Linked DNA regions of Homo sapiens. The protein of the gene in region 2 interacts with the protein of the main gene of each other region in a pairwise test. Each region holds a gene or a part of one and is shown on either strand. Other genes may lie near its edges.

What was found.
Region 1: the proteins of PLN (region 2) and SLC14A2 interact in binary tests that used the Homo sapiens proteins (3 or more experiments, as listed by UniProt).
Region 3: the proteins of PLN (region 2) and TMEM45B interact in binary tests that used the Homo sapiens proteins (3 or more experiments, as listed by UniProt).
Region 4: the proteins of PLN (region 2) and CLEC2D interact in binary tests that used the Homo sapiens proteins (3 or more experiments, as listed by UniProt).

What each region holds. Positions count from the first base shown.
Region 1 is NC_000018.10:45,611,643-45,618,509, forward strand, and holds the start of SLC14A2 (urea transporter 2), read left to right. Parts: upstream 1-3,833; 5' UTR 3,834-3,940; intron 3,941-6,867.
Region 2 is NC_000006.12:118,558,266-118,562,223, reverse strand, and holds the end of PLN (phospholamban), read right to left. Parts: intron 3,400-3,958; 5' UTR 3,303-3,399; coding exon 3,144-3,302; 3' UTR 508-3,143; downstream 1-507. UniProt on the Homo sapiens protein: Reversibly inhibits the activity of ATP2A2/SERCA2 in cardiac sarcoplasmic reticulum by decreasing the apparent affinity of the ATPase for Ca(2+).
Region 3 is NC_000011.10:129,811,101-129,818,872, forward strand, and holds the start of TMEM45B (transmembrane protein 45B), read left to right. Parts: upstream 1-4,747; 5' UTR 4,748-4,798; exon of another isoform or gene 4,799-5,191; intron 5,192-7,772.
Region 4 is NC_000012.12:9,686,708-9,693,744, forward strand, and holds part of CLEC2D (C-type lectin domain family 2 member D), read left to right. Parts: intron 1-1,194; coding exon 1,195-1,379; exon of another isoform or gene 1,380-1,454; intron 1,455-6,120; coding exon 6,121-6,224; intron 6,225-6,326; coding exon of another isoform or gene 6,327-6,408; intron 6,409-7,037. UniProt on the Homo sapiens protein: Receptor for KLRB1 that protects target cells against natural killer cell-mediated lysis. Inhibits osteoclast formation. Inhibits bone resorption. Modulates the release of interferon-gamma. Binds high molecular weight sulfated glycosaminoglycans.

The DNA.
Region 1 (6,867 bases), on a different chromosome or scaffold from region 2:
CAGTCATTGGATGAGGGAGAGAACCTTAGGGAAGAGTCCAGGGCCCAACACAAAGAGGTTGGGAATGCTGTTGAGCAAAGAAGGCTGAGACAGTCTTAGCTCCTGTGTCAACTCACTGTGTGGCCCATGAAGCAGGTACCCTCACATCACTGACCCTGCAAAACAAGAAGAAGAGCACCATCTATAGCTTACACCCCATCATGAGATTGATTGAGGAAATAAATTCAGTTTGAGGAAGGAAAGTGCTTTGTAACATATAAAATACCATGTGCATGGTGACTTCAAACAGTACAGAATTTGTAAAGTTCATAGTCTGCAATCTTCAGTGAATACTTCACTCATTCATCAAATATTTATTGAGCACCTATTGTGTACAAGATGCTATACTTCAAGAAAACAAGGAAATTGCCGATAAGGGGCTCCTGGCTGTCTCCTAGAGATGAGACATATACATAAACAGCAATGACAGATAGCTGAGGCCTGGAAAAGGAAAGATAAAGAGCTCTCAAGCAGTTGCTGCTGCTCCCAGCCTCCATTTAAGGTGTTTACTCAGAGATCTTCCAGCCCAAGGTCAACAGAGAGAACTGCCCAGAGCTCAGTGGGAAAGAGCAAGGATGGCTCAGACTCTGCGGGCTGGCAAGATAAGCAAATCAGCTGGTCAGAATATTATGTGCCCATGACATTCCAACATGGCAAGGTTAACTTCTTAGAACATGCAGAATAGCATTTAAACTCCTTACCCATCTCTCTACTGCCTGAATTCACTTTTGATTGGGGTTCTTGGACAATGGCCCTGAAGATGCTCAGACACACCCACATGAATACATCACTCACAGCATAAGCATGAACAATTAAAATCGCTAATGTTTATTAGCTACTTAATATGTGCTAGGCACTGCACTAAGCAACTTGCATGCATTATTTCTTCTGAAACAATCTTATGAGGTAGGCACTATTATTGTCCTCACCTCACAGATGGGATGAGAAAACCAAGACACAGAGAGGTTGTGGGGCTTCCCCAAGGATGCACAGCTAAGTAGGTGGGTGGTAGGGTTTGGCTCTGTGTCCCCACCCAAATATCGTTTGGAATTTTAATCCTCATATTCCCCATGTGTCAAAGTCGGACCCAGTAGGAGGTGACTGGATCATGGGGGCAGCTTCCCTATGCTGTTCTCATGATAGTGAGTTTTCACAAGGTCTGATAGTTTTATAAGTGTTTGGCAAGTTCCTCCTTCTCACACACTCTCTCTCTCCTGCTGCTATGTGACAAGGTCCAAGTTTGCTTCCCCTTCTTCTGCCATGACTGTAAGTTTCCTCAGGTCTCCCCAGCATTGTGGAAATGTGAGTCAATTAAACCTCTTTCCTTTATAAATTACCCAGTCTTTGGCAGTTTTTTTTTGTTGTTGTTTTTTGAGACAGTCTCACTCTGTCGCCCAGGCTGGAGTGCAGTAGCGCAATCTCGGCTCACTGCAAGCTCCGCCTCCCAGGTCCACACAATTCTCCTGCCTCAGCCTCCCGAGTAGCTGGGACTACAGGCGCCCGCCACCATGCCCAGCTAATTTTTTGTATTTTTAGTAGAGATGGGGTTTCACCGTGGTCTTGATCTCCTGACCTCGTGATCCGCCCGCCTCAGCCTCCCAAAGTGCTGGGATTACAGGTGTGAGCCACTGCGCCTGGCCAGCAGTTTTTATAACAGTATGAAAACAGACTAATACAGTAAATTGGTACCAAGATAGTGGGACAGTGCTATAAAGATACTTGAAAATGTGGAAGCAAGTAGGGAACTGGGTAACAGGCAGAGGTTGGAACAGTTTGGAGAGCTCGGAGGAAGATAGATAGAAAGATGTGGGAAAGTTTGGAACTTCCTAAAGACTTGCTGAATGATTTTGACCAAAATGCTGATAGTGATATGAACAGTGAAGTCCAGGCAGAGGTGGTCTCAAATGGAGATGAGGAACTTGTTGGGAACTGGAGTAAAGGTCACTCTTGCTATGCTTTAGCAAAGAGACTGGTGGCATTTTGCCACCTCCCTAGAGATCTGTGGAACTTTGAACTTGAGAGAGACGATTTAGGATATCTGGCAGAAGAAATTTCTAAGCAGCAAAGCATTCAAGAGGTGACCTCGGTGCTCTTAAAAGGATTCAATTTTATGCATTTACAGAGAGATTGTTTGAAATTGGAACTTATGTTTAAAAGAGAAGTAGAGCATAAAAGTTGGGAAAATTTGCAGCCTGACGATGTGATGGAAAGAAAAACTCATTTTCTGGGGAGAAATTCAAGCTGGCTGCAGAAATTTGTCTAACCAGAAGCCAAATGTTAATCGCCAAGACAATGGGGAAGATTACTCCAGGGCATGTCAGAGAACTTTGCAGCAACCCTACCATCCTGGGCCCAGAGGCCTAGGAGGAAAAACAATGGGCTGGTCCAGGGCCCCACTACTGCCCTATGCAGCCTCGGGACTTGGTACCCTGCATCCCAGCCATGGCTAAAAGGGGCCAGTGTACAGTTCAGGCCATTGCTTCAGAGGGTGCAAGCCTCAACCCATGGCGGCTTCCATGTGGTGTTGAGCCTGCAGGTGCACAGAAGTCAAGAATTGAGGTTTGGGAACCTCCACTTAGATTTCAGAGGATGTATGAAACGCCAGGATGTCCAGGCAAAAGTTTGCTGCAGGGGTAGAGACCTCATAGAGAACCTCTGCTAGGGCAGTGCAGAAGGGAAATGTGAAGTTGGAGCCCCCACACAGAGTCCCCACTGGAGGACTGCCTAGTGGAGCTGTGAGAAGAGGACCACCGTACTCCAGACCCCAGAATGGTAAATCCACTGTCAGCTTGCACTCTGCACCTGGAAGAGCCACAGACACTCAACACCAGCCTGCGAAAGCAGCAGGAGGAGAGCTATACCCTGCAAAGCCACAGAAGCAGAGCTGCCTGAGTCTGTGGGAGCCCACCTCTTGCATCAGCATGACCTGGATATGAGACATGGAGTCAAAGGAGATTATTTTTGAGATTTAAGATTTAATGACTGCACCACTGGATTTTGGACTTGCGTGGGGCCTGTAGCCCTTTGTTTTGGCCAATTTCTCCCATTTGAAATGGGAGCATTTATCCAATGCCTCCTGCACCCCCACTGTATCTTGGAAGTAACTAACTTGCTTTTTTTTTTTTTTTTTTTTTTGAGACACAGTTTGCTCTGTCACCCAGGCTGGAGTACATTGGCACTATCTTGGCTCACTGCAACCTCCACCTCCCAGGTTCAAGAGATTCTTCTGTCTCAGCCTCCCAGTAGCTAGGACTACAAGTGTGTGCCACCACACCCTGCTAATTTTTGTATTTTTAGTAGAGACAGGGTTTCACCACATTGGCCAGGCTGGTCTCGAACTTCTGACGTCAAGTGATCCACCCGACTCGGCCTCTCAAAGTGCTGGGATTACAGGCGTGGGCCGCCGCACCCGGCCATTTGCTTTTGATTTTACTGGCTCATAGGTGGAAGGGACTTGCCTTGCCTCAGATGAAACTTTGGACTTTGACTTTCAAGTTAATACTGGAATAAGTTAAGACTTTGGGGGACTGTTGCTAAGGCACAATTTTGTTTTGAAATGTATAAAGAACATAATATCTGGGAGGGGCCAGGGGCAGAATGATATGGTTTGGCTCTGTGTCCACACCTGAATATCATCTCAAATTGTAATCCCAGTAATCCCCATATGTTGAGGGCAGGACCCAGGGCAAGGTGACTGGATCATGGGAGCGGTTTCCCCCATGCTGTTCTCGTGATAGTGAGTGAATTCTCACAAGATCTGATGGTTTTATAAGTGTTTGGCAAGTTCCTGCTCCACACCATCTCTCTCTTCTGCCGCCATTTGAGAAGGTCCAAGTTTGCTTCCCCTTCGCCTTCCACCATGACTGTAAGTTTCCTGAGGCCTCCCCAGCAATGTGGAAGTGTGAGTCAATTAAATTTCTTTTTTTTTTTTTTCTAATAAATCACCCACTCTCAGGTAGTTCTTTATAGCAGTATGAGAATGGACTATTGCAGTGGGGGAGCCAGGATTTGAATCCAGGTATTCTGTCTCCACTGTGCCACCACTGTCTAATAACACTAAAATTAACTACCTAGAGCCACCTCGGGGCAGCTTGTGTATATAAGTATGTGTGCATGTGTGTATGTGTAGGGGTGTATGTGTGTGTGTGTGTGTGTGAGAGAGAGAGAGAGAGAGAGAGGGAGAGAGAGAGACTACTACATTGTGAAATAGTCCACCACACAAGCCAGAGCAGAGGTCACCATGCTCCTAAGAGGCCAGGAAGGCACCATGGCCATGTTAGGGGTGGGTGTGTGAGCAGGATGTGTGTGAGTAAAGGAGATCAATATTCGTGCATGTGGAACTGAATTGGAGGTAGCTGTGGGACCTCAGGAGGCCACCTGCCCAGAACAGTGGCACACACTGCAGAGAAGCTGAAAATTGTCTTGGGCACAAGTGGAGCACCCCTGGGTAGAACCGAGGGAGATTGAGAACAGTTGCTATCTTCAGAGCTTTTTAACTTCTCCCCCTAAGTAGCCTCAACTGATGGGAGAATTGACACATTACCCCTACGTAATAGGTGGGCACAGCCTGAAGCAGCCACCTGCAGACTCTACATTTCTTCCCTTTATATTTTATTTTAATAATATAAAGAGTTGCATTTGACTATTTTATAAACCATGTTTGCTTAAATATACAACTATTATTCTATATTAGTTCATATCAAGCTCAATCAGCATTCCAGAAAACTGTGCTTCTCAGTGCCCTGGGCATTGACTACTCTGGCTCAGAGTTTCATGCCCAGTTTCAGGAGCGAAGCACTCAGACATGGAGCACCTCAGAAGGTTTTTGAGCAGTGGCACGACCAAGTCATGTTTTAAGATAATTTACCCATCACCAGTGGCAAGGTGGAGAAAAACTGGGGAGACTGAAGTGAGGGAAATCAGCTAGAAGGTGACCTGCGTTGGGGAGGGCCTGGCTTAAAGGGAGATAATGGGCTGATCCAGACTGAGGGCTCTGAAGGAGAACTCGATGGCTGAATAATTGCAACTGATGGAATGCAAGAGGCAATAAATAAATTGCCATTTATTCATGGGATGAGAGGGCTCAATATGTGGAACATTGAAGGGTCACCCCACTTTAGAAGTGTCACATAAGGACCGGGTGCAGTGGCTCACACCTGTAATCCTAGCACTTTGAAAGACCAAGGTGGGCGGATTGCCTGAGCTCAGGAGTCTGAGACCAGTCTGGGCAACATGATGAAACCCCGTCTCTACTAAAATACAAAAAATTGGCTGGGCATGGTGGTGTGCGCCGGTAGTCCCAGCTACTAAGGAGGCTGAGGCAGGAGAATTGCTTGAACCCGGGAGGTGGAGGTTGCAGGGAGCCGAGATTGCGCCACTGCACTCTAGCCTGGGCAACAGTGGAGACTCCATCTAAAACAAAGAAAAAAGTGTCACATAAGAAGGGTGTGACGATCTCCTATGAGATTCTTCCAAACACAAGCTAAGGAGGAGCATCAAAAGAGGTCAAGTGGTCTGCTCTCTCCCCCACCTCATCTCACAGCCACTGCAGGCTCCTCAGAGCTTTTCTGCTGGAGGCCAGAATTCCCCTGCCAGGCTCTGGTTAGATTCTCAGCTGCAGAACCCCAGCCCTGGCCCTGCAGCAGAAACCAGAAAGATAAAGCCCCTGGCCCACTGGCCACCAGCCATCTCTAACCCCAGCCAGTCCTCAGAGGACCCAGAGGAGGTGGTGCTGCCTCTGACTCCTGCCCCACCCAGCCTGACCCGCTGGCCCCAGTGAGTCAGTCTCCTCTCAGCCCAGATCAGACTTACTAACTTGGAGCTGCCAAGAAAACTCTGAGCCACCCCTAATAAAAGCCGGCACTCAGCCAGGCTCTTATACAACCCAGCCCTGAGTAAGGCACCTCTCAGCCCAGCTACTGGACTGTTTACCTGCCTTGTCTTCTTAGTGCCCAGGTGTCTCCTGGATTCCTCCCCTCCCTGATCTCCCTGATGTGTGATCCACCAGTCCAGGGGCCTCATCTGTCCCCATTCTGGCAGCCTGACCAAACATCCACCTAGCCCCACACACCTGATTTTTCACCTTCAGAGTCTACCAACTCAGGGATGAGTGAAGCCAGTGCTCCCAGGGACCCAGCCTGACTCACTCAGCAAGGTCCTTTCAGAATGATGCTGTCACTGAGATCCTGGTGGCAAGATGGCAGAGAGTCTGGGGTTGTGTTTGGTGAGCCAGAGTGAAGGACAATCAAGCAGACTGCCCTAGAAAAATGAAGGCTTAGGATCAACCTCTGAAGTGCTCTTAGGTGGGAAAAGGAGTCCCTGTATCCTGTGCAGGTATAATGGACAGAACTGGAAACAGCAAAGAGAAAAAGTCCCAGGGACTTGATGTCAGCTCCACAGATACAAGGGTTTCTAGTAAGCAGGGCTGTTCTCAACAAGACCAACCTGCCTCATGGGAAAGGGACCCCAGCCAGGAGAAGCTAGGTATCCAGAGGTGTTAAAGAATGGATTCCTTCATCATTTCAGAGAGGACATCCCTCTTGGTTCTAAGGTTGTAGAAATTTATGGAAACTCTCCTTGCATCAATTGCAAGGTCTTAGGCAAAATATATCAATCCAACTAATATTCTGGAGAACCTGCTAATCACTTTTACTTCTCCAGAGCTGCTGTGGTCTCAATAACTGAGTTGGTTAGAAGATGAAGTAAGGCCAGGCACAATGGCTCACGTCTGTAATCCCAGCACTTTGGGAGGCCCAGGCCAGTGGATTACCTGAGGTTAGGAGTTCAGGACCAGCCTGGCCAACATGGTGAAACCCCGTATCTACAAAA
Region 2 (3,958 bases):
TATTTTTGTACCCTGTTCTGGCTTTAATTTTTTAACTGTTTGAGATAATTTATATATTCAAAGATGTGAACACTATGACACTCCCTATATTAGGATATGACACATTCATTAGGTAGTTAAAGAGGACTTTTATATACCTGTTTTAATGAATAAAATTAGTAATGTGTTTCACTTTTTTCATCTGTCAAGTTTTCTATGTAATATTAGCATAAAATTTCTGGACATTTTGAAGTGTGCTGTTACTTAGCAGAAGAGCAGATCTTTTCTGAAAATTTATTATAGTCCTACTTTGCCAGAAGTCTCAAAAATAATCAAAAGATAAATAATCGCTATGTAGTAGCAATTTGTTATCTTATATACGTCTGCCCTCTTGTGTGTCTGGACTTGGGCGTCTTGATTTTGTTTTATTTGGGGAAAGTCACCAAAAAAACCCCTATAAAATTAAAACTATAATTAGAGCGTTTTATCGTTAGTATCAATTGTAAGTGTATTATAGAGCAGCCCCACTGAGTTTTCAAGAACATTCATTTTAATATAGTGATTCTGATTTGCATTAAACAAATATATATTCTTAACCAATTAAAATATAAAAGGCAACATTAAGCATTTTAAAATTGTTTTTAGTGCCCTGTAAATTAAGATAAGAACTTATTCTATAGTAGAACATATTTGAGCATTTAGTATATTAAATTTTAAAAATAAATTGTTTTCTTATATCTTATTCTTTACACTTTATGATGAAGAATAATTATTTAAAGAGTTTATTCTACTTTATAATTTGAGTTATAGTATTCTGTAATCCTCACAGAATAAGATTTTAATTTCTATCAAAGAATGAAGAACAAAAAAATTAGTTATTTCTGTTTACTGAGAAAAATATTGTAACAAACAGTGTAATCAAAGGAATATGACTAATCAGTTCAAATTTTCCACTTGTTTTTAAGACTAGGGATACTTTCTGTATTGGTAATTTACTAAAACCAGTGAGGTGAGTGTATCACCTGTTGTTTATAAGCTTTCTACTTGTTTTTAGGAATTTCCAGCTTGTAGATGAGGCGTCACTTAAGAAATCTCTGCCCTTCTGTTCTTCAGATATCCCTGAACCAAACACTTTCCACTCCCCATCTCTAGTATCTCTCATGGGTTCAGAAAATTTAATAGTGTCTCCTTCACTATTGAGTTAGCAACACTTGTGTAAGAAACCAAGGTCAATATTGATGTTACATATTCTTTTAGTAACCATGTTTTAGAAGATATGGTTAATTACACATCCTCTACTCTTTTAATAATAGTTATATTAGTAACATGTCTTCAACTGAAATTAAAATTGTTGGATTATGCAGTATAGGTGTAAACTATTTTAGACTTAATTTTAAACTTTAGTCAACTTAAATTACCAAAGTTTGGTGAATATATTTTCCAGCACTCAATTTTACTTCAGTTGTTTTATGAGTTATTGGAAGATGTTCTGAAATGGTCAGAGGAGAAATTGAAAATTTATTCATCAAGAAAATAATTATAAATAGCATAGCTGGATCTATAATTTAGCTCAGTAGAGTGGACTGCAAAATAGATGCTTACCATTTGGTTGATAGAGGAAGAAAAATAGCTATATCCTATTACAGTTGACCCTTGAACAACAAGGGCTTGAATTGCAAGGGTCCACTTATACATGAATATTCTTTCCCCCACTCCCCACACCCCTAAGACAAGACTGCAAGACCAACGCCTTCTCTTCCTCCCCATCTTTCTCCTCCTCTGCCTACTCAATGTGAAGACAATGAGAATGAAGACTTTTATGTTGACCCACTTCCATTTAATGAATAGTAAATATATTTTCTCTTTCTTATGATTTTCTAAATAACATTTTCTCTAGCTTACTTTATTGTAGGAATATAGTGTATAATACATATAACACGCAAAATATGTGTTAATTTACTGTTTATGTTATCAGTAAGGTTTATGGTCAATAGTAGGCTATTAGGTAGTTAAGATTTTGCGGACCCACGAATTGTCAGCTCCCCTAACCCCCATGTTCAAGGGTCAGCTGTAGATGTAATAGATGGGCCAACAAGTTCATTTCAAAATATAATCTAATAATTAGTTAATATTTGGAGAGAGAATTCATATATTTTTAAAAAATACTTGAGATAATATATTTTTCTGTCACTGGAAATCTTTTATTTTCCTTGCCTGCATTGGATGTTAGGCTGGAATGGAAGACAACCTGCAAAATCATTCTGAAGTCTTAAGGTTTCATGATTCCAAAGATATAGTATGGTAAGCTAGGTAACTCTAGCTCAGATAATTCACTACAGTGCCTTAAATGAAGATTAGATTCTGTTGTTAGTATATTAGTGATATGACTAATCTCACTGTCACATATTAACCACCAGTTCTCATCTGTTGATCATATGTCTTAGAACAGATTTATGATTTACCTACATGTACTAGAATTCTGTGATTCTTTGAAAAAATTACTTAAAAGGAATTTTATTATGTAAGAGTATGGCCTTACTTTTCCATACTTGATTCTCATCAACTTTAAAAGATGTTAATGTGGCATAGAAAAAATACAATTTCTGTTTTAGAATGTAGATTCTGATAGTTACTACAAATAGTTCTTTATAATAAGATAACAGATGTGAGGAGTCAGTGGACTATTTTGAATAATGACACTTCATTTGTGTTATTACTTTGATACTTGGTGAAGACCTGAAAAATACTTAGTATTAAAGAAGCTTTTACATTGTAATATAAATTATATTCACCTCAAAAGAGTAAAAATAATGCTTTATATATGAAGTGAACTTGTTGGCAGTGCAGTTTTAAAACTAAACTCTTCATCTTCAGAAAAGATTTGGGATAGAAATTTGTGAGCCATGTTGAGGAAATCAACAGTTGCATTTTATACACTTATTTTGAAGTTAATTTTTGAAAATAAAGCCCTTTTCATGTTTACAAGATCCAACAGATGAATACATATGGTAACAATAAGTTTTAGTCTTAATCTTGACCTTTTCACAAAGAAACTCTTCTACTCAGGAAGTGGTCTGTTATACAATATTGTTTTCCTGTCTGCATGGGATGACAGATTTTAAGCTGATGTGGCAAGCTGCAGATCTAGAGGTTGTAGCAGAACTTCAGAGAAGCATCACGATGATACAGATCAGCAAGAGACATATTAAGATGAGACAGAAATTGATAAATAGATTCTGTAGCTTTTGACGTGCTTGTTGAGGCATTTCAATGGTTGAGGCTCTTCTTATAGCTGAGCGAGTGAGGTATTGGACTTTCTCCATGATACCAGCAGGACAGGAAGTCTGAAGTTTTAAGTGGTCGAGAGAAAGATAAAAAGCTGGCAGCCAAATATGAGATAACTGTCTTCTTTTAGGTAGCCTGGAATGTAAAAATAATAAATGGATTAGAATCATCTATGTAACCTATCCTCAGAACAAAAAATACAATTTTACACTAATTCATCTTCCTCAGCACTATTGTTATTTATAACATCATGTTTCTATAGTCTCTCTCCCTCTCTCTCTCTCTCTCTCTCTCTCTCTGTGTGTGTGTGTGTGTGTGTGTGTGTGTGTGTGTATGTGCACGTGTTTCTATGTGTCTGTCTCTCTTTCTCTCCTTTTTTGATGGGGCACACCATGACCGTCTCATTTGTGTTAGGAGTAGTAACTTTAGTCCTTGCCTTTTTCTCCCAAATTTACTACAAGTATTGGAGTAATCCTCAGTGTCTTCCATAAGTTCCTGGAAACCATGACTTTACGCAAAACAACATATAACAAAACCATTTTTACCCTAGGCTGATTGATGTAAACAAGAGTTAAGTTCCTATAGCATATTTCTGGTCACAAAAACATCACCAAACTTCTCAATAAAGACCCCAAACACTTCTAATATTAAACGTTGAGAGAAATATGAACTATGTATACATTTAAGAAAGATT
Region 3 (7,772 bases), on a different chromosome or scaffold from region 2:
AAAACACAAATAGGGAAGGGGCACCCTATTCAACAAATGGTGCTGGGATAACTGTCTAGCCACATACAGAAGAATGAAACTGGATCCTCATCTCTTACCTTATACAGACATCAACTCAAGATGGATCAAACACTTAAATGTAAGACCTGAAACCATAAAAACTTTAGAAAATAACGCTGGAAAAACTCTTCTAGACATTGGCTTAGGCAAAGATTTTAAGACCAAAAACCCCAAAGCAAATCTAACAAAAACAAAAATAAATAGATATTACCTAATGAAAACACTTCGGCACAGCAAAATAATCAGCAGTGTAAACAGACACCTCACTGAATGGGAGAAAATATTCAACTATGCGTCCTACAAAGGACTAATATGCAGAATCTACAAGGAACTCAAATCAGTAAGAAAAAAAGAAATAATCCCATCAAAAAGTGGGCAAAGAACATGAATAGACAGTTCTCAAAAGAAGATACACAAATGACTAACACATGAAAAAGAATGCTCAACATCACTAATTATCAGGGAAATGCAGATTAAAACCACAATGAAATACCACCTTACTTCTGCAAGACTGGCCATAATTTACAAAGTCAAAAAATAGTAGATGTTTGCATAGATGTGATGAAAAGGGCACTTTTACACTGATGGTGGGAATATAAACTAGTACATCCACTGTGGAAAACTTTATGGAGATTCCTTAAAGAACTAAAAGTAAAACTACCATTTGATCCAGCAGTCCCACTATTGAGTATATATCCAGAAGAAAAGAAGTCATTATATGAAAAAGCCACTTGCATCTGCATGTTTATAGGAGCAAAATACACAATTGCAAAAATATGGAACCAGCCTAAATGCCCCTCGACTGACAAGTGGATAAAGAAAATGTGATATATTTACACCATGGAATACTACTCAGCCATAAAAAGGACTGAAGTAATGGCATTTGCAGCAATTTGTACGGGAGTTGGAGACCACTATTCCAAGTGAAGTAACTCAGGAATGGGAAACCAAATATCGTGTATGTTCTCACTTATAAGGGTTTGCTGAACTATGAGGATGCAAAGGCATAAGAATGATATAATGGGCCGGGTGCAGTGGCTCACAACTGTAATCCCAGCACTTTGGGAGGCCAAGGCAGGCGGATCATGAAGTCAGGAGATTGAGACCATCCTGGCTAACATGGTGAAACCCTGTCTCTACTAAAAATACAAAAAATTAGTCGTCGTGGCACGCGCCTGTAGTCCCAGCTACTCAGAGGTCTGAGGCAGGAGAATCGCTTGAACTTGGGAGGCAGAGGTTGCAGTGAGCTGAGATTGCGCCACTGCACTCTAGCCAGGGCGACAGAGCAAGACTGTCTCAAAAAAAAAAAAAAAATACATACATACATACATATATATATATATATATATATATATATATATATATAATGGACTTTGGGGACTCAAGGGAAAGTGGGAGGAGGGTGAGGGATAAAAGACTATACATTGGGTACAGTGTACACTGCTCAGGTGATGAGTACACAAAAATCTCAGAAATCACCACTAAATAACTTATCCATGTAACAAAAAAATGACCTGTTCCCCAAAAACTATTGCAATTTTTAAAAATGTAAACATTAGCCATGCGTGTTGATGCACACCTGTAGTCCCAGCTACTTAGGAAGCTGTGGCAAGAGTATCTCTTGAGCGTTGGAGGTCGAGGCTACAGTGAGCTATGATTGCACCACTGAACTTCATCCTGGGCAACAAAGTGAGCCCGTCTCAAACACACACACACACACACAACAAAAAATTGGTTTTGTCCTGGTACCTGGTTATTATAATTTGAAGCAGAAATTATTTTGTTTAGATTTTTTAATATTAAGAAGCATCTCCGTCGGGCGAGGTGGCTCACACCTCTAATCCCAGCACTTTAGGAGGCTGAGGTGGGCAGATCACCTGAGGTCGGGAGTTCAAGAACAGTCTGACAAACATGGAGAAACCCCGACTCTACTAAAAACACAAAATTAGCTGGGCATGGCGGCGCATGCCTGTGATCCCAGCTACTCAGGAGAGTGAGACACGAGAGTCACTTGAACCCAGGAGGCCAAGGTTGTGGTGAGCCGAGATCGCGCCATTGCACTCCAGCCTGGGCAACAAGAGCAAAACTGTCTCAAAAATAAAAAGTAAAAAAAAAAAAAGCATCTCTACTCACCATTAACTATACAATTAAGAGGTCACACCTTTGTTTCATCATCGTAGACAAGGTAAATATTACTAAAGAAAATGCCTGTCCATAAAAGGGATCTGGTGACAGAGGACAGCCTCTCCCAGAGTAACAGGCATCCAGGACTCCACTCTATCAACGATTTCTAAAACAATGGGTGTGAGCAAGGGCTAGGATGAGATGTGTGATTAAGTTCCTGAGCTGACGGCAAATTTAAAAGATGCCCTCTCAGCTCCTGGCTGCGGCCCATCCTCCCTGTAAGGTGCACGACTCCATGACGCTTTTCACTGACGGCACTACCTCTTGGCCATTACCACCTCCCACCAGATCCCATTCGCTCTGTTTTACCAGGGAAAGGTCTGCTCCAGTTAATGCCTTATCCTTCACAGTGATGTTCTTTGACTTTATAAAAACGGAGCCATTTGGTCAACAGGCTGCCCGTCGGATCCCGTGTCCTTCTGCACTGCTAATATCTAGCTGTGGCCCTGCTTTAAAACCCAAATGCAAACATCTCTTCCATGAAGCCCTTCCTGATTGCCAGTGCCCTCAACAGTGGAATAAGCTGCCAGGCATCTTAGAGATCTAGACCCGTGGTTCTCAACCCCCACTTCCCCAGGCCTCCTGAGAAGCTTTTAATAGGTGCATCAGCCCTGGATTCTTACCGGCAGGACTGAGAGGGAGCCTTAACGCTTGTGTTCTTCTAATAGTGTGCACAGGGTTGACGGGAAACACACACACACACAGTGCAGAACCATTCCACGAAGCTGTGTATCCGGAATTGGTTCCCTCTGAAGAGTTCCTGGTCCCGGTCCTGCCGCGGACCTTCACGGCATTATAGTTCTTAAACATGGTGTGTCCGGAGTTTGTTCCTTCAAATGTTCAGGTGTGTCCGAAGTTTTTTCTTTCTAGAGAGTTCGTGGTCTATGCACGACTTGATGAGTGAGGCCGCGGACCTTCGCAGGGAGTGTTACAGCTCTTAAAGGTGGCGCATCCGCGTTGTTCCTTCCTCCCAGCGGGTTCGTAGTTTCGCCGACCTCAGGAGTGAAGCCACAGACCTTCGCAGGGAGTGTTACACCTCTTAAAAGTGGTGCGTCTGGAGTTGTTTGCTCCTCCCTGTGGGTTCGTGGTGTCGCTGACTTCAGGAGTGAAGCCACAGACCTTCACAGTGAGTGTTATGGCTCTTAAAGGTGGCGGCTCCAGAGTTGTTTCTTGTGGTGGCTTCCTGGTCTCGCTGGTTTACAGGAGTGAACCTGCAGACCTTCACTGTGAGTGTTAAAGCTCATAAAGGTAGTGTGGACCTAAAAGGTGAGCAACAGCAAAATTTATTGCAAAGAGCGAAACAACAAAACCCCAACACCATCGAAGGGGACCCAAACGCAGCTGCCGCTGGCTCGGATGGCCAGCTTTTATTCCCTCATTGGCCCCGCCCACATCCTCCTGATTGGTCCTGCCCACATCCTCCTGATTGGTCCATTTTACAGAGCGCTGATTGGTCCATTTTACAGAGTGCTGATTGGTCCATTTTACAGAGTGCTGATTGGTCCGTTTTTACAGAGTGCTGATTGATGTGTTTACAAACCTTTAGCTAGACATAGAGCATTGATTGGTGCATTTACAATCCTTTGGCTAGAGAGAAAAGTTCTCCAAGTCCCCACCAATTAGCTGGACACAGAGCACTGATTGGTGCATTTTTACAGAGTGCTGATTGGTGTGTTTACAAACCTTTAGCTAGACACAGAGTGCAGATTGATGCTTTTACAATCCTTTAGCTAGACAGAAAAGTTCTCCAAGTCCCCATCCGACCCAGAAGCCCAGCGGGTTTCACCTCTCAGTAGCTTACAGAAGAGGACCCTGCTGCCACAGCACAATACCACAAAGAAAGTCATGCTCTCCTCAGCAGGTAGCCCCCTTCTCCGGGACAGGAACTTTGTTTCCTTCTTAGCTCTATCGCCAGCACCTAGAACAGTGCCCACCTGTCAGATCTGTTATCAGATGGGAACATGGCAGATTTGTTGAATGAATGAAGGAATGAATGAACTATGTGACACTCAAACTTAGCCACCAAACTTAAACTAAAAAAACTGGGTTGTGGTCCCTGATGGACCGTTGGCACCTTCTTCCTTTGCTGGACGGTGATCCGTGGCTGTTTCTGCGGTGTGTTCGCAGTGGTTGCCTGGCTTGGTAACAAACACTCTTCGGAGCCACAGCCTGTTCTCAGGGTCCTCGCCGCCTCCCAGGCCCTGCGATCTCTTTGCATCTCAGGAGGTCCAGGTTGGTTGCAGTCCTCTTGGGTGACTCAGGAACCAGCCTCTCCTGAAGCACACAGCTTAGGGAGTTCCTGAGGCCAGAGACATCTCCACGGGAAAGTCAAAGGCCTGGAGGAAGTGCGGACCTGACGACAGATGCCCCGCACGCTGGCCGGGACCGGGAAGGGCGGTCAAGGGTGGAAAGGGGCTGGCGGCTGCCAGGCCTGGCGGAGTGGAGCGGGGCGGGGCGCAGCGGGGCGGGGCGGGCCTGGAGCTGCACCTGCTTCTGGGCGGACGCACTTGGCGCGCGGCGCGGGCTGCAGACGGCTGCGAGGCGCTGGGCACAGGTCAGACGTCCGTACCCGCAGGGGGCTCGAACCTGGAGGAGGGCTCGAAGGGAGAGGGGGCCCCGCCAAGGAGCGGGGCTGTGATGGAGAGGAGGTTCCGACTCGCAGGGGACCTGCGGGGGAGGGGACGCGGACAGGGAGGGGCTCTGGGACAGGGGTGAAGGCTGCGCTAGGGGAGGACGGGAGGGGATGGAGGGCCCTGGTGTCGCGGAAGCCCAGCTGGGGCCCCCTCCGGGCTGCGGAACCGGTGCGCACACTACTCCCACCGCCCCCGAGTGCCTCTGTCCGGCTGGCCGCGGCCCTGGAACGAATATTGCTCAGTCCCCCGCGAGTCAGGTCTGCCGCGTTGCCCGGTGAGGGGAAGGTGTGAAGCCCCGGGCCTCCGTCTGCCCGGTGAGTCCGGGGACGCGCGCCCCCGGGGATGCCATCTGGCTCCTGGGCTGTGACCAGTCACAGCTCACATAGCTCTGGGCACTGGTACCGACTGCCTTTCCTTGTTAGCTGCGATACACAAATACACGAGCCAGATCCTTTCCTGAGGCCAGGAAGCCTGGAATCTAATAACACCGGGCGGTGGATAAAGTCCCCCGAGCCAGTGCTTAGCTTCCGTTAATGGAGCCATGGATGGAAGCGGATGTCAGGCGCAGTGGGGGAGAAATTTGCGGGGGTGGCCCTGTCTAGGGCCAGAGAAACAACCTCTGAAGCTTTGATCCAGCCCTAGAGGGAAGAAAGATGTGAGTTTCAGCCAGGGAAACGTAGCACTTTAAGAAATAGAAACCCTTTCAAAATTTGAGGGCAGGTAGCTCTCCTAAAAGTTGCAGAAATGGCCACTTCTTTTTTTTTTTTTTTTTTTTTTTGAGACGGAGTCTCGCTCTGTCGCCCAGGCTGGAGTGCAGTGGCGCAATCTCGGATCACTGCAAGCTCCACCTCCCGGGTTCACACCATTCTCCTGCCTCAGCCTCCCGAGTAGCTAGGACTACTGGCGCCCGCCACCACGCCCGGCTAATTTTTTGTATTTTTTTTTTTTTTGGTAGAGACGGGGTTTCACCGTGTTAGCCAGGATGGTCTCGATCTCCTGACCTCATGATCCACCCGCCTCAGCCTCCCAAAGTGCTGGGATTACAGGCGTGAACCACCGCGCCCAGCTAGAAATGGCCACTTCTTTCACGTTCTCTTCGACCGCTTTCTGCGGTGTCTGCCCTTTTCCTCCTCCTGCACCTTTTTGTCTCCTAGGGTCGCATAGCCTTCCAAACAGGCCTGCCTACAGCATTTTACCTGCAATTTTACACTCATTTTAATAGAAAGGATGGCTTATTGTTCATGAGAGACGTGTACTGTTTTTAACCAGATGTGTAATATCTTCAGTATAACCTGGATGTTGTGCAGTGGGAAGTTATGGAAAGAATCAGGACACGTGGTTAGGTAGGGGCCCAGGGGCGTCAGACTTAGCTCTTTGTGACAGTGAGCTTCTTGGTTTAATAAGGATATTGGCTCCCTCTGTTCCTGGGGTTTCTGGGAAAAGATATGGAACTGATATGAAGGTTTTATTGAATATGGCCCACTGATTTTACAAGTGGAGGTGACTGAGATAAGCAGAAGGTGAGGCATGACCTCTGGCTGTGCATTATTTGTTCTGATATTACAGGAGCCAAGCATTCCATTTCCTTCTTTTTAAAGAGCTTTGATTTCCTCTCACATCTTCATGAAGATGGAAACAGTGCCCCCACTTACTTATCCTCAGGCCACACCTGTTCCCATTTATTCCATGAGTTCCTCCCACACCCTTCTGGTTGATGTTGGTTGTGATGGTCGAGGTAATTGAATCTCACATTTGGCACCAGTTATTTCTGTTTCTCATCTCCCCCCTACCTGCAGTTAAACATCAGCTGCTATACTTAACTGTTCAAAGTACAGATGTTACCTGTGTTGGGTGTAATCAAAAGATTATCTCTTTTCCTCAAATGAAAAATGGGTGAGGACAGTTTCACCACACATAGAGTCACTCCCCTAGCCAAAGTCCTTGCTATTGCAAAACTTTTTACTGTAAGAGAATTAAAGTCACTAGTGTGTCATCAACTAATGGTACTTATAGACACATTCCATATTTGTTTCTATAGAAAGATCATAAGACAAACACTAGATTATTCCCAGTATGAGACCATACTGAATATGAACAATTAGAGGCCACAGGTGAGTGCTGTCCTCCTCACACTTTCTTTGAACTCTTAAGCTTCTACTCTTTTAACCAGCTACCCCTCTCCCCAAAACCTTCACTGAGGCTAGAAACAAACACAAATAGACTATTTGAATTTTAGCAAATTTTATCTCTCTTTTCTATTCTCTTGTGTAAAACTTAAATGGCCACAAGCTACACTACTGGAGGAAAAAGGAAAGCTAAAAGGTCTATCAGCCTTCTGTATGTGATGCAGAGTTCAACTGAATATAGCAAGGTACACACCCGCATTCTCCTTGCCAGGACTTAGATATCATAAGCCATTATCTTGCTGGTTGTTGAAATCATAATGGGGCTTTATAGAGCACAAGGCGATGTTTGTAAACAGCACTGTTCAGGTCAGATTAGAATCCGTATTTCAAAAATGAGGAGATGGAAACAGAGATATTGTGTATGTGGTCCAGGGTTAGCCAGTAATTAAATGGCAGAGCCAGAACTCAAACCAACATTCCTTCCAGAATACCACAGCTGCCTCTGGAGTGGTTTTTGTTGTTCTTGTTGAATTTTGTGATGGAAGATTGTGATTTGTTTTTCCCGAACACTTAATATGTTTTCTGACTTGAATTATCAGAATCTAAATTTAGAAACTCTCTCGTTTGGTATATTTCATGCCCATCTTTGTTCCATATAATTACAAAAATATCTTAGAGCTGAGTATAACCTTAAAGATTGTCAAGTCCAATCTTGTGGTTTTTCAAGGAAGAAAACCGGATTTAAGAAAAATAAAGCAAGTACCTCATG
Region 4 (7,037 bases), on a different chromosome or scaffold from region 2:
CTCAGTGACAACTATCTGGAGAGACATTCATTCATCTCGATCCCACATGAAGAGAGCATTTCTCCTGATTATATAAGAAGTGGGTCAGAAAAGCCTGTCCAGTGAAGTATTGCTGCCTTCAAAGTGTAGAAAACCTCACTAAATCTCCTTAGTGGAAGGAAGTTCACTGTACAACAACTTATTTCATATTTATGATAGTATTTAGACATATACAAGGCTTTTTCACATCAAGAAACCTTATTCACATAAGGCATCTCTATCCTGCCCTTCATTTTACCAAGTCATCTGGAGCAGCAATCGCCAACCTTGTTGGCATGAGGGACCAGTTTTGTGAAAGACAACGTTTTCATGGACTGGGGTCAAGGAATGGTTTGGGGATAATTTAAGTGCATTACTTTTATTGTGCCCTTTATTTCCATTATTATTACATTGTGTAATAATATATAATAAAATAATTATACAACTCACCATAATGTAGAATCAGTGGGAACCCTGAGCTAGTTTTTCTGAAAGTAGATGGTACCATCTGTGAGTGATGGGAGACAGTGACAGTTCATCAGGTATTAGATTCTCACAAGGAGCCCACAACCTAGATTCCTCACATGAGAAGTTCCCAATAGGGTTTGCCCTCCTATGAGAATCTAATGCCACTGCTGATCTGACAGGAGGTGGAGCTCATGAGGTAATGTGAGTGATGGGGAGTGGCTGTAAATACAGATGAAGCTTCACTTACTCATTCGCTGCTTACCTCCTGCTGTGCAGCCTGCTTCCTGACTCATCCATGGACCAGTACTGATCCATGGCCTAGGGGTTGGGGACCCCTAATCTAGAGCACTTGGAGAACTATCTGTTCTCCAAAGCTGATCAAATGCTATCATTAATGTATCTAATATTTTAAGAAAGGGTAACACTGTTGAGAGCCAAATAGATACATGGCCCAGAGCAAGCTTAAGTTACTAATAACTCCTTTTTCAGCTCACCCCCTGCTGAAGGCATGAGTTTGAATCTCAGTTTTGCCATTTGCTGTGTAATGTATGCAATTATATTTAGCATCATATTTCTCACTTGAAAAATGAAAATAATACATTTAATACTTAACAGGAGTGTCAGAAAGTATATTAGCACTTGGTAATTTATACAATACAATATAAAAGTAAGAAATTTTTATTTTATTTATTTTTATTTTATTTTCAGCAATAAGAGCTAACTGCCATCAAGAGCCATCAGTATGTCTTCAAGCTGCATGCCCAGAAAGCTGGATTGGTTTTCAAAGAAAGTGTTTCTATTTTTCTGATGACACCAAGAACTGGACATCAAGTCAGAGGTTTTGTGACTCACAAGATGCTGATCTTGCTCAGGTTGAAAGCTTCCAGGAACTGGTAAGAAAATAGTTCTGGCCAGAATCAAAGATTCAGCCCTACAAGGATATGTTTTCCTGTGAAATTATCTAAGAGGTAGGTTTAGACATCTGCTTTTACATTGATTTTTTTTTTTTTTTTTTTTTTTTGCATAACGAAAGAGTAACCTAGCATGTATTATATTTTACAGTGAACCATCTAAAATTACCTTAATATTCGTGGCAGGAACAGGCCCAGAGGGCAAGCAAGCCAGAGCCTTCTTTGACTTGTGAGCCAGAATTGTGCAAATAAGGATTAGAAAAGTATTGGTAGAAACCCAGTTTTAAGTTTGTATGAAGTTAGCAACATTGTTTCAAAATAAATCAAACAAGGCCAAGAGCAGTGGCACATGCCTGTAATCCCAGCACTTTGGGAGGCCAAGGCGGGTGTATCACTTGAGGTCAGGAGTTTGAGATCAGCCTGGCCAACATGGTGAAACCCCATCTCAACTAAAAAATACAAAAATTAGCTGGGCATGGTGGCATACGCCTGTAGTTCCAGCTACTCAGGAGGCTGAGGCAGCAGAATTGCTTGAACCTGGGAGGTGGAGGCCTACAGTTAGCTGAAATCATGCTACTGTACTCCAGCCTAACAGAGTGAGACTCTATCTCAAAAAAATAATAAAATAAAAACAATAAGTCAAGCAAGAATGATGTCATAGAGGTTGGTAGACTAAAAAGCTACAGAAATCTGTTCCTCCACTGAGAAAACTATTGAACTGTCAAAAACTGTCTGAAGTAACTATTTTGGAATTCTCGAGTCTAGTTAAACACTGGAAGCATCAAGGGAAGAGTTTGATAAAGAGGATGATAAATTTTGGTTAATGTTGGTGAATTTCAGCCTTTCCACTCAATAATAACTATTTTCCATACCCCATTATTGCAGGGATCCATGGGAACTGCTGCCCATGTTCTTGTAATGAATTCCTGCAGCCAGGGTGAACAATAAGCACCTTTTTGTCCAAATGTCAGGGTTATTGCTGATTTCTGCCTTTGAATGCTGAGGGGCAGACACAGAAGTGGGCTATCATTGCATCAGTCCTCATCAGCTGAAGTGGCTTCCCAAGGATTTAAATAAATAGTATGTGTTTTTCCTCCCTTTAGGAAGCAGTCATTTAAGACAATTTTTATTAGATAACTGGCTGACAGCAGAGATAACAGAACAGAGATTTCAATGACCATGCACAACAGAGAATAAAAATAGTTGGGAAAAAATCATGACCAAATGACTCTGAGCCACAACAACCAAGATTTGACAATCCCTGAAGAGCAAAATAATTAAGTTACCAGAGTTACCACAACATAGTATTCATAATGTCCAGTTCTCAAAAAAAAATTACAAAACATGCAAAGAAAAGTATGGTTCATTCACAGGAAGAAAAAGTAATCTGACAGAAACTATCCCTGAAGAGGCTCAGATATTAAAAATATGAGTCAAAAATGTTAAATCAGCTGTCTTAAGTATAACCAATGAGTTAAAGGAAACTAGACAAAAAGCTAAAGGAAACCGAAAACATAATAAATGAACAAAATTAGAATATCAATATAAAGGTAGAAATTGTAAAAAAGAACCAAGCAAAAATTCCAGAGCTGAAAAGTACAATGACTGAAATTTAAAAATAATTTTAAAAACTCAATGAAGAAGTTCAACAGCAGATTTGAGAAGTAAGAGATCAGAAAACTTGAAAATAAGATAATTGAAACAATCCAGACTAAGAAAAACAAAGAAAAAGAATGAAGATAAATAAATTCTAAGGAACCTGTAGGACATCAGCAAACATACTAACATATGTACTGTAGAAATCCAGGAAAGAGAAGAGAAAGAGAAGCAGAGAAATACACTTAAAGAAATAATGAACAAAACTTTCCAAAATCTGAGGAAATACATAAATATATACATCCAAGAGGCTCAATGAACTCCAAAAGGGTAAACTTAAAGAGATCTACATTGAGACAAAATATAGTCAAGTTGACAAAATCCACAGAGAGAATTTTGAAAGCAGCCAGAATGAAGCAACTCATCATTTACATAAGACCCTGAATAAAATTAATAGCTGATTTTCTCTGAGAAACCATGGAGATCAGAAGGTAGTGGAATGGCATATTTAAATGTCTGAAAGAAAAAATAAAACTGCCAACCATGAATTCTATGTATAGCAAAGTTGTCCTTCAAGAATGAAGGAAAAAGTAACACATTTTCAGATAACCAATAATTAAGGGATTTTATTACCAGTAGACATGTGCTACAGAAAATGCTAAAGGAAACCTTTTAGGCTGAACTGAAAGTACACTAGACAGCAATTCAGAGCCTCCAAAATAAAGAATATTCATAAAAGTAACAATAGAGGTAAATATAAAACCCAGAATTACTACATGTGTCATATAGTTTATAACTTCTCCTATTTATAGCTTTCTATATTTATATTTATCTATAACTTCATAGGCAAATGAATAAAAATTATAAATATGATAGTGGTCATATAATGTATAAAGATGCAATCTGTGACAGTCTTATGAAGCAGGGATGAAGACATATAGGATCAAAATGTTTGCATAGTTATTGAAGCTATGTTGATATTATGAAATTATATTGTTACAAGTTTAAGATGCTAATTATAATTCTCAAGGTAACCACTAATAAAATTACCAAAATTATGCAGAAAAGGAAAAAAGAAAAACAATACACTATAAAAAACCAATTAAATACAAAAAAAGTCAGTAACAGACAACTTGAGAAACAAAGACATATAAGATATAGAGAAAACAAATGATTAAATGGCAAAAGTAAATCTTGTTTTAGTAATCACATTAAATAGAAAAGGATGAAGCCATCCTATTAAAGGGCTGAGACTGACAAGTTGGCTAAAAACTAAAATAAATTAAAAAGAAAAACAAGACTCATCTACATGCTGTCTATAAGAGACTTGCCTTAGATATAAGGACACAAAGAAGTTGAAAGTAAAAGGACTGAAAAAGATATTCCATACAAACAGTAGTAACCAAGATAGTGCCGAGTGGCTATATTTTTGTCAAACAAAATAAACTAAAGTAAAATTTACAAGAGAAAAAGAAGGGCATTATGCATTGACAAAAATTTTGACATAGCCAAATAATTATGTTATAAAATATATGTACTTAATAATACAGCCTCAAAATATATGAAGCAATAATTGCTATAATTTAAGGGAGAAAAGAACAGTTCTATGAAAAGTTAGAGAATGAAATATTCCACTTTCAACATGAGATTAAACAACTAGACATAAGATCAATAAGGAAATAGAAAATTTGAACAACACTATAAACCAATTATCCCTAACAGGCATATACAGAAGAATCTACCCAACAAGAGCAGAATATTAATTCTTCTCAAATGCACATGGAACATTCTTAAACCATATGTTAGGCCACAAAACAAGTGTTAGTAAGTGTGAAAATTTGAAGTCATAAAAAGTATCTTTTGCAATTACAATGGAATGAAGCTAGAAATCAATAACTAGAAAAACCAGAAAAGTCACGCATATGTAGAAATTTAAAAACCCGCTCTTCAACAGCCATTGGTCAAAGAAGAAATCACAAGGGACATTAGAAAATACCTTGAGACAAATGAAGTAAAAATACAAATAGCACGTTTATGGTATACACTGAACATAGTTCTAAGAGGGAAATTTATAGCTGTGAGCAGTTAACTAAAAAAGAAGAAAGATCTCAAATCCATAGCCTAACTGTACACTGTAAGGAACTAAAAAAAGTAAAACAAAAATAGAAGTCATCTTTATGATTTGAAAGAGTAAAAGATTTACCTAATAAGTCCCTAAATTTACTAATAATAAAGAAAATTGTTTATATATTTAATTGCGTTAAAATTCAGAACTTGTAATCATAAAAAGGACAGTACACATTGACAAGGAAACACAGCAAAGGAAACCAGCCTATGCTGCTGCTGTTGTGAGGATAATTTGGTACACTTACATTAGTTTGGTGTCTTTTCTTTCTCTTTCTTTCTTTCTTTCTTTCTCTTTCTTTCGTTCGTTCGTTCGTTCGTTTCTTTTTGAGACAGAATCTCACTCTATTGCCCAGGCTGGAGTGCAGTGGCGTGATCTTGGCTCACTACAACTTTTGTCTCCCAGGTTCAAATGATTCTCATGCCTCAGCCTCCCAAATAGCTGGGATTACAGGTGCATGCCATCACGCCCAGCTAATTTTTGTATTTTTTTTAATAGAGAGGGGGCTTCATCATGTTGGCCAAGCCTAGTCTCAAACTCTTGGCCTCAGGTGATCCGCCTGCCTCGGCCTCCCAAAGTACTGGGATTACAGGTGCTTGGCCTGGTGGTGTCATTTCTTAAAGTTGACAAAAAGCATATCCTGGGGCCTAAAAATTCTATTCTAGGACAGGTGCCAAGAATGTCATAGTAGCATACATTCCAAACTTGATAAAACCCTGGTGTCAACCGATAGTATAATAGATAAATTGGAGAAGAGTCATACAAAGGAGTACAATACAGAAACAAAAGTAACCAAATTATCAACAATTTCTCTCAGTTTTAAATTATCTTCTTTTGATATGTATGATAATATAGCACACCTATTCTGTATGTATTACTAAACAATACAAAATCAAAAGGAAGAAAATTATGAGTAGTTAAGAATATAGCATAGCAGCAACATTTCTGGGAGAGGATGGGTTATGTTAGATTAATGAATATCATCTCTGTGTTTTCTGAAAGAATTTCCTGTTGAGATATAAAGGCCCATCTGATCACTGGATTGGGCTGAGCAGAGAACAAGGCCAACCATGGAAATGGATAAATGGTACTGAATGGACAAGACAGTAAGTTCTAAAAATCTGGCAGTAATATTTGTATTTGAATTTACTTTGCATTAAATCTGAAGTGTTCTCTAGTTACATGCTTTAAAAAATTCTCATTTTAAGGTTAGTCATGAAAGAAGATGGTGCCAACTTGTATGTTGCAAAGGTTTCACAAGTTCCTCGAATGAATCCAAGACCTGTCATGGTGAGGTAGACTGACTGTGAACTTGGCTCCAGGCTTATCTATGTCATTTTCAAACACTTTCATTTTAAGCAAACCATACAATATCTTTAAGTCTGTTCCTTACCTCCACAACAAAATTAAATTGCACTTGTCCTCCTGATTTCACAGGGTTGATGTGAGGAACAGAGGTTTTGATGTATCAGGGAAAGATTATGAGTGACAGCAATTATACCTATTATTTAAAATAAGACAATAGTTTTAAAATTTTAAAATGGGTAAAGTTTGGCACTAGAAAATTTAATCTCAATTGTATATTTATAGGATCTTCAGATTACTAAAAAGATTTGAGATAATGCTGGAAAAATTGGATTCACACAATTTCACTCAATGTTTGTCTGAGAGATGAGACAGTTTTGAAAAGCTACTTTATTGTAATACATTCATCAATATTGGAAATATAACTTTATTTAATAAAAAGAGCCCCAGACTGGACATTGGCAGGTTTGAAATGAGTTTTTTCTCATTAGCTTTTGACCTTGGATGGGATGGTAAGTTTTAGAAATCAGAGAACATGTACATTTATACATTGTTGTATCTACACTGCCTTGCACATTGTGACTGCTTCATAAATATCTAGAATTAACTTTTAT